Linked DNA regions of Homo sapiens. The protein of the gene in region 2 interacts with the protein of the main gene of each other region in a pairwise test. Each region holds a gene or a part of one and is shown on either strand. Other genes may lie near its edges. The genes, in order: UPF1 and SMG7.

Region 1 (3,815 bases), on a different chromosome or scaffold from region 2:
AAGGCCCGGTACCGCTTCTCGTCGGCAGACGACAGCTCCCCAGTCTCGTCTTTCAGCTGCTGCAGCTTCTGCAGCTCAGGCATGCTGGAAGCACATGCAGGTCAGCAGGGTGCCTGAGTTCTGTACATGTCACCCGCAGAAGCTCAGGGACCAACTGGGAGGGATGGACTCGACACACACCTGTCCATGTTCCTGATCTGGTTGTGCAGGGCCAGAAAAGACACCGGGGAGTCGATGGCCTCACGGCTCTTGGCGCAGAGGCGCACGACCTTTAGCCCCGTCTGGTGGATCTTCTCCGTTAGCTGGTCCACGGCGATGTTGCTCGGAGCACACACCAGCACCGGCCTGCAACACCATTGGGGCAGCTCAGTGCTTACCCAGAGGAAGCTCGGTGAACGTAGTAAGCCAAGACTCTGTTTTTTGAGACAGGGTCTTGCTCTGTTGCCCAGGCTGGAGTGCAGTGGTGTGATCTCAGCTAATTGCAGCCTCAACATCCTGGGCTCAAGCAATCCTCCCACCTCAGCCTCCTGAGTAGCTGGGACCACAGGTGCACGCCACTACCCCCAGCTAATTTCTGAATTTTTTTTTTGTAGAGACGTCTCACCCTGTTCAGGCTGGCCTTAAACTCCTGACATTTTTAACAGGCAGTAATGACACGATGCCGAAGGAGCTCAGATCCAGACAGCCCAGGCTTCACAGCTCTACCCACCGCAAGCAATGCCAAGGCTGGAACTTGCACCATCCCGCCACACTATAAAGTGCCGCACACGGAACTCACGCTGCTGCAGCCATGCCCCCCCTGCCCCCAGTTTTCTAAACCAGTAGCAGACCTGGTTACTAAAATGCAATCCTAAGGTTGGAGCTGACACGAATAATGTCACATAGAGAGCGGTAGGCACCATGGCGACACTACCCGCCACGTGCTCTCTTCGGTGTGACAGAGCCCAAGGCTCCCAGCACCAGGCCTTCCATCTGGCCACCCTAAAGCCCTCCCGGGTCTTGCCCGCAAGGGCCGTGTCAGCCCTACCCGTTGCCTTGCCGGGCCAGGTGGTAGACGATGGTGGCCGACGTCACCGTCTTCCCCGTGCCTGGCGGGCCCTGGATCAGGCTCAGTGGTCTTTGCAGCACAGTCTTCACGGCATAAACCTTCAATACAAGCGGCCGTTAGGGGCAGCCTCCGCTTGCGTCCCGGCCCATGGGCGAGGCCCCGCGCGCTGAGGACGGCGCGCACCTGGGAGTGGTTGAGGTCGGGGAGGCCCTGCGCCGTGAAGCGCTTGGGCAGCTGGCACTTGATGATTACGTCCTCCACCTCGTGGCCCAACAGCTTGTGGTAGATGTAGCCAGACACCGAGGTCTCATCCACGGCAAACGTTTTCAATGCGCTCTGCATCCTGTGAGGAGGGTTTGGGGTTGGCGACACGCACAGCTGTGGCCGCCTCTCCGACATCCTGAGTTTGCAGAGCTGGGTGGGGAACCCCACTCCACAGTGACGGGGAGGGCTCATAAAGATGCCACAGGTGGCAACCAGGGAACAGGGGGCAGTGATGGGAGAAGACGTACCTGTCAAAGGAGGTCGACTTCCACACAAAATCCACCTGGAAGTTGTGAGTCACCTCCACAGGTGCACCCACGCTGCTCCGCAGCTCAATGGCGATCTCATCGCCATAATCTGTGTGCTGAGTTAAGTTTGCATCCTTGTCAAAAGCCGGGCTGACCTTTCTGGGCCACCCTTGGTACACGCTCTTTAAACAGCGTTTTTAAAATTTAGTTACTTAAGACACCGCTGGCTCTGCACCAAACGCTAAAAACGTGCAGCCAACACCAGACCAGAGACCAGAAGGACAGCATCCTTGAAGAAAGACTCTACCTCACCATGAGCCGGTGTCCCACCCCCAGCCAGCCTGGAGTTCCTCCTTGCCACTCCCAGCCACCCATCTAGGCCCCTTTCAGAGACGCAGAGGGCGGCAGCGAAGCCAGCAGCGCTCACCAGCAGGGAGCAGCCACATCCTGGGCCCCAGGACCTCACCGGGAGCTCCTGCACATGTGGCCAGCAGGGGCAGGCAGAGCTCGCAGAACCCAGCTTTGGCCACAGCAGCTCTTCTCACAGTTCCACAGAAACAACACCCCTCCCAGTACGGCCAAGCAAAAGGCTCCACATACACAAGCAAACTGCCCTCCAGGAGGCTGTGGCCGGTAGGCAACACCCTTCCCTCGACCCCGAGCCCCAAAACCGGTCTCACGTGTTCAGGATGAGCTTGTCAGGCCCAGGGTGGGTGTGGGAGACAACTCTCCCTACCCCTGTGGAGGCCACCGCTGAATGGTCAGGCCCCAGCAGCATTGGCCAGTCACCAAGAGGCAGCCTGAGTCTGACCCGCGGTGTCTTCTCCCAGGACTCCTCCCCACCCAAGCCTCTGACTGCACCTGTGCCTTACAGCTGCCCCACTCTGGCCGGCAGGCTGCATCACCATGAGGTCACTGCACATTCCCAAACATGGCCTGGGAGCAAGTGTGTGCTCAGAGGGTCTGCATGTGACCACTGGCTTCTGGAACCTCCGTGTGCAGAGTCAGCGTCCAGGTAAGGCGCTCCTGCAGCCACATTAACCTCCAGAGTCAGTCCAGGGACGTGCCACACAAGCGGCATACATTAACTTCCAGAGTCAGCCCAGGGACGCGCCACACAAGTGGCATCACCAACATCACCATTCGGGCAGAGGGGAAGCAACCATACAACCAGCTGTCCCCTGAAGGTGAAGGCCCTGTGATTCTCCTAAGAGCAGTGGAGGGCGATGCCAACCAGCACCCACCACAGAGCATGAGATGCTGGCCCAGCAGTGAGCATCAAATCCACAGTGGCCTCCACCTGATGCCCCCACTTTCCTCTCCCACCAGCCGGCCACACCCTCTTCACATGAAGGATACTATCAGGGACCTTGATGACGTGGCCGATCCCTTTCCACAGGGGCGCAAGGTCCCCTTTGTACCGCAGGCATATCTCATCCCCCTGCATGAGCCGCATGTCTTGAGGTAAAAAAGTGAGAGAGGTGGCCATTTTAACCCACGCCGTCGCTTCCACCAGGGAGAGTTCAAATTAAGGGGCACTTTACAAGGGTGGAACTAGGAATTTATGCTACTTATGGTCACAAATATTTTAAAACTTAAAATCACCTCTTAACCAAATTATGACTAAATCCTCATTACCAGAGTCAGTCTTGGGCAAAGTGAAGTAGGCGATTCTCTTCTTGTTAAGGCCCAGGTCCCACCTGACAGTGATGTTATCTTGAGTCTGAGCACATGAAAAACAAGAGCCCCGGTTAGCCTCCAGCACAGGCCCGGGCCTGGCCTCCACATGCCCGAGGCCCCATGAGGCGGGCCCTACAGCAAGCCTCTGCCGTGAGAGCAGGCGCCGTGAGTGGCACCTGCAGCCCCAAATGCCACCAAGGGCACATCTGAAAGAGAAGCCATTAGGAGTCCCCGGAACACACACAGGCCAATCCCGTCTGGAGGCTTCACCGCACACCAGAGGCCTCCGTGGCCAGGGAGCAGCTGCTGTGGGAGGGAGGAAGAGAGAGAGGAGGGGAGGGAGGGACAGAAAGAGGAGGGGAGGGAGGGACAGAAAGAGGAGGGGAGGGAGGGAGGGGAGGTCAGCGCTCCAGGGCTCCCGTTGCCTAAATGTGGTCTTCACAGGGATCACGCCCGAGTCTAACTCTCGCAACTGTGGGCAAAGCTGTGGACCCCACTGGGAAAGATGTGTTGGATTTAAACAGAAAACACTGAGGCTGATGTCAGATCTGAGGGCGGGGGCTCAGACCACCGGG
Region 2 (3,815 bases):
TTTTAGCCCTGGGCTCCCATCTGCAGCCAGCGACTCTATCACAGATGTTTCTTGCAGAATGAGGTTCTCTTTGGCTTCACTGGGGTCTTCCAGTATTAATTCTGGGATTTCTGTGATAAACAACAATTTCCCTACCTCATTTTCACACTGAATCAGCCTAAAAAAGCAAAAATAAATCCATATATAAAAAACATTAACTTAAAAAATAACAACTGAATTGTGTGTGGATCCAAGTCAATATATTCCTAGCACTAATAACCATGAAAACAGCAGGATATAACAATGTGGATTCAGGTAACACAAAAAGTAGTTATGTAGAAACTGAGGTTCTCATTATCACACTTAACATCGTCACAACCTATCCCTCTGGCTCTTTCAACGTTTGCTAGAATTTACATTTTCTGAGCATGCTTCAAGTGCAAGACACTGGTCTAGGGCCCTTGATATGTCCTATAAGGTAGCTATATATAATTCCTATTCTATAGATGTGAAAATTGAAGCTTGGAGGTGGTAAGTTCATTCAAACATGGAAGCATTTAACTACCTACTGTATGACAGAAACCTGAATACAAAAATGAGGAAGTAGTTAGTGACTTTGGAAAGGTTATAATCTACTGGGGAGATCCCAAGGACACCCACTTGAGAAGCTGCGGAACTCGAAACGGAACTCAAACCAATGGAATTACAAAACCTGCGTTCTTTTCCCTACACTAACGACCACATCTGCTTTGTACTTAACTGGCTACTAGCACGATCTTGGTCTGTCCTGCCTGAAACTGACTACCATGCCCAGGCCAATACAAATTACCATGACTGTGAAAGTACAGTTCAGTTAGATTTACAGAGATATTTATAAATTAGAGCAGAAACTCACGATAAACAAGAAAGACCTCTGTAATACACAATAGGGAGAACAGAGATTCTAAATAAAGAGTATACTTACTCACTAGGGTTATAATTAGATGTTGTGCTACCAACATGTCGATTTAAGAGTTCATGATTGACAATATTTATACCAAAGCCTAAAATACGTAACATATGAGATGTGTGTGTGTGCGCGCGCGTGTGCGCGCATGTGTTTATCTAAAAAGGTGGTTAAAAAGGGGTAGACCAGAAGTTCCAGACTTACCTTGGCTGATTATCAGCAATCCATTTGCCTATAGAGATCAAGCGTTGCTGTCGTATTCGTCGTTGCTGGCCTTCTTTGTCCCCTGTAATACCCTGGTGACCTTTGGAAAAATCCAAGTTCCTAAAATTGACACAAGCAAGTTATGAGAATATTAAATTGCTAAAGATATTTTCCAGGCAACCAAGTTCACCTGATTAACTGTAATGGCTTCAGATTACTTCCCACATAGGTTAGCTACTTGATGTAATCAACTGCATTTATTAGAATTTATACTACCAGAGATTTTTACAAACTATGAAACAAAGCAGAAAAGAAAATATACAAATTCATTACATTAATGTAATATTTTTACTCACATTTCACTTTCTAGTCAGGGAGCTCAAATAAACCACAACTTTTTATTAGGAAAGATTCTTTTATCATTTTAAGAATAAAGTTTTATAAACATTTATCTTGCATGCCAAGTAATTTGCTTGAAATGACCATGGCAATGCTAAGAGTCTCTGAGGTGCCTATTTTAATAAATAATATTAATCTATCCACTTTGTGGTGGACCATTCTAAATCAGAAAAATGTATAAATATCGTAAAGCATATAGAATAACTCATTGATATCAGAAGGGTAAACCAACCTGAAAAAATAAAGATTTTTCAGATTTCTCCTTATTAAACTTTTTTTTTTTTTAAGAAGATTTAAGAATTGCCAGGCAGAAGGCTAGATGCTGAGGACACAAAGATAAATAAGAGTCCCTACCTTTGGGAATAAATAATTATGATTCAATCTGATAAGCATAATAAGAACTATGTAAAGAATTAAGTGAATATAGTAAAAGGAGGATGAGTTCCTTCTGAGAAGCTCTGAAAGGTTTCATAGAGTGATACCTGAGCTGGACCTTGACAGGTATGGCTAAGTGCTTACCAGGCTGGTGATGGAAGGGCAGTAGAGGAGAAGGAAATGTTCTAGGCACAACATGAACAAAGGTGTGGAGGAATAAAAATAGTGAGCTATTCAAGTATAGCACATAGTGTATAGAGTTTATAAATACTGGGGGAAATGGAAGAAAATAAGGCTGAACAACTAGGAGCTGGATAGTGCTGGAACTTGAGCATCAAGCTAAAAGAGACAGTGGAGCAACTGGGAATGGGTAAATAAAAATATTAGTCATGCAACATCACTATTTCCATACTTAAAAACTATAGGCAGTGTAGAAACAGACTATAGGAGGAGAAGAACTATACGTAGGAAGGTTTTTATACTTCAGGTAAACTGGTGAGAAAAGCCTGAACTATGTATAGGGAAATAAACGGAAGGACTTGAACCTAAGAAGCATTTCAGACACATAATTATAAAGGCTTGGTGAGAAAGACAAATAGAAACAAGGGTTTTTCAGATTTCTAGCTTGGTCATATAGATGGGTAATGCCACAGGCACAGACAGAAAATAGAGAAAGAAGATTGCTTTTTGGCTGACCAAATCGGAAAATATAAGCTCAGTTTTTGGTCACGTTAAAGTTTAAAATGCGTAAGGGAGGTCAGATTGTTAGAATATGCATCCAAACTTCAAGAGAAGTCAAAGCTGAAAATTTGGGACATACCATTCAAGAGACATAGGGATGGATTTGATTAACAGGGTGAATGTACAAAGTGAGAAGGAAAGGGCAAGAAAAGAATCCTGGAAAACAACAACATTCAGAGGCATGTAGTTTAAAAGAAATAGTGAAAAAGACTGAGTGCTAAGGGTGGGAAAAATTGCATCACAGAGCTAAGGAAAAAGGTTTCATGAAGGAAGGAAATCGACGGACTCAATGCTGAAGAAAATTCAATAGGATAAAGACTATAGTCACTGGATTTTGGTATCTAGAAGGCACTGATAGTTTAAACCACAGTAGGCTGAAAATGATCAGGAGTTGAAGTGGAGTCAGTCAGGTTGGCCCACGCTACTCTTTTTTTTTTGAGACGGAGTCTCACTCTGTCACCCAGGCTGGAGTGCAGTGGCGTGATCTCTCAGCTCACTGCAGCCTCTGCCTCCTGGGTTCAAGCGATTCTCCTGCCTCAGCTTCCTGGGTAGCTGGGACTATAGGCACCCGCCACCATGCCCGGCTAATTTTTTTTTTTGTATTTTTAGTAGAGACGGGGTTTCACCGGGTTAGCCAGGATGGTCTCGATCTCCTGACCTCATGATTCACCTGCCTCCGCCTCCCAAAGTGCATACTACTCTTTTTAAGAAGTTTGATGATGAAAAGATAAGGCAACGTAGGAAAATAGAGGGATGTAAATTCATTTTACCTTTTTAAAAGAATGGGGCACACTTAAATGTTACTAGGCTAAAGATAATTAGTTGTTTAAAAAAGAAAGGAAAGAAAGACAAGACACTGGAAATACAATGCAGAGAGGATAACAGATGGAGCAAGGTTCTTAGGGAGGTGAGAAGGGATGGGATCAAGGGCACAGATGGAAAGGTTACATTTTAATTTTTATTACACAGGAATTGAAGGCGTGACATACACAAATCCAATTCACAACAACTTTCAGTATTAGTTGACGTTACAAAAATAACACACAGCTGGGACAGATCAAAGGTTCCTCTACATCCAAGCCCAATTCTCTGCTAATTTTAATACTGCAATCACTGGCAATGATAAAGGTACTTCAGCTATCACCTACCTGAAAGAAGGTCTCAATGCCAA

What was found.
Region 1: the proteins of SMG7 (region 2) and UPF1 interact in binary tests that used the Homo sapiens proteins (3 or more experiments, as listed by UniProt).

What each region holds. Positions count from the first base shown.
Region 1 is NC_000019.10:18,852,455-18,856,269, reverse strand, and holds part of UPF1 (regulator of nonsense transcripts 1), read right to left. Parts: intron 3,284-3,815; coding exon 3,199-3,283; coding exon of another isoform or gene 3,166-3,198; intron 3,019-3,165; coding exon 2,920-3,018; intron 1,694-2,919; coding exon of another isoform or gene 1,670-1,693; coding exon 1,561-1,669; intron 1,392-1,560; coding exon 1,232-1,391; intron 1,147-1,231; coding exon 1,028-1,146; intron 346-1,027; coding exon 181-345; intron 85-180; coding exon 1-84. UniProt on the Homo sapiens protein: RNA-dependent helicase required for nonsense-mediated decay (NMD) of aberrant mRNAs containing premature stop codons and modulates the expression level of normal mRNAs.
Region 2 is NC_000001.11:183,538,418-183,542,232, reverse strand, and holds part of SMG7 (nonsense-mediated mRNA decay factor SMG7), read right to left. Parts: coding exon 3,793-3,815; intron 1,250-3,792; coding exon 1,130-1,249; intron 158-1,129; coding exon 1-157. UniProt on the Homo sapiens protein: Plays a role in nonsense-mediated mRNA decay. Recruits UPF1 to cytoplasmic mRNA decay bodies.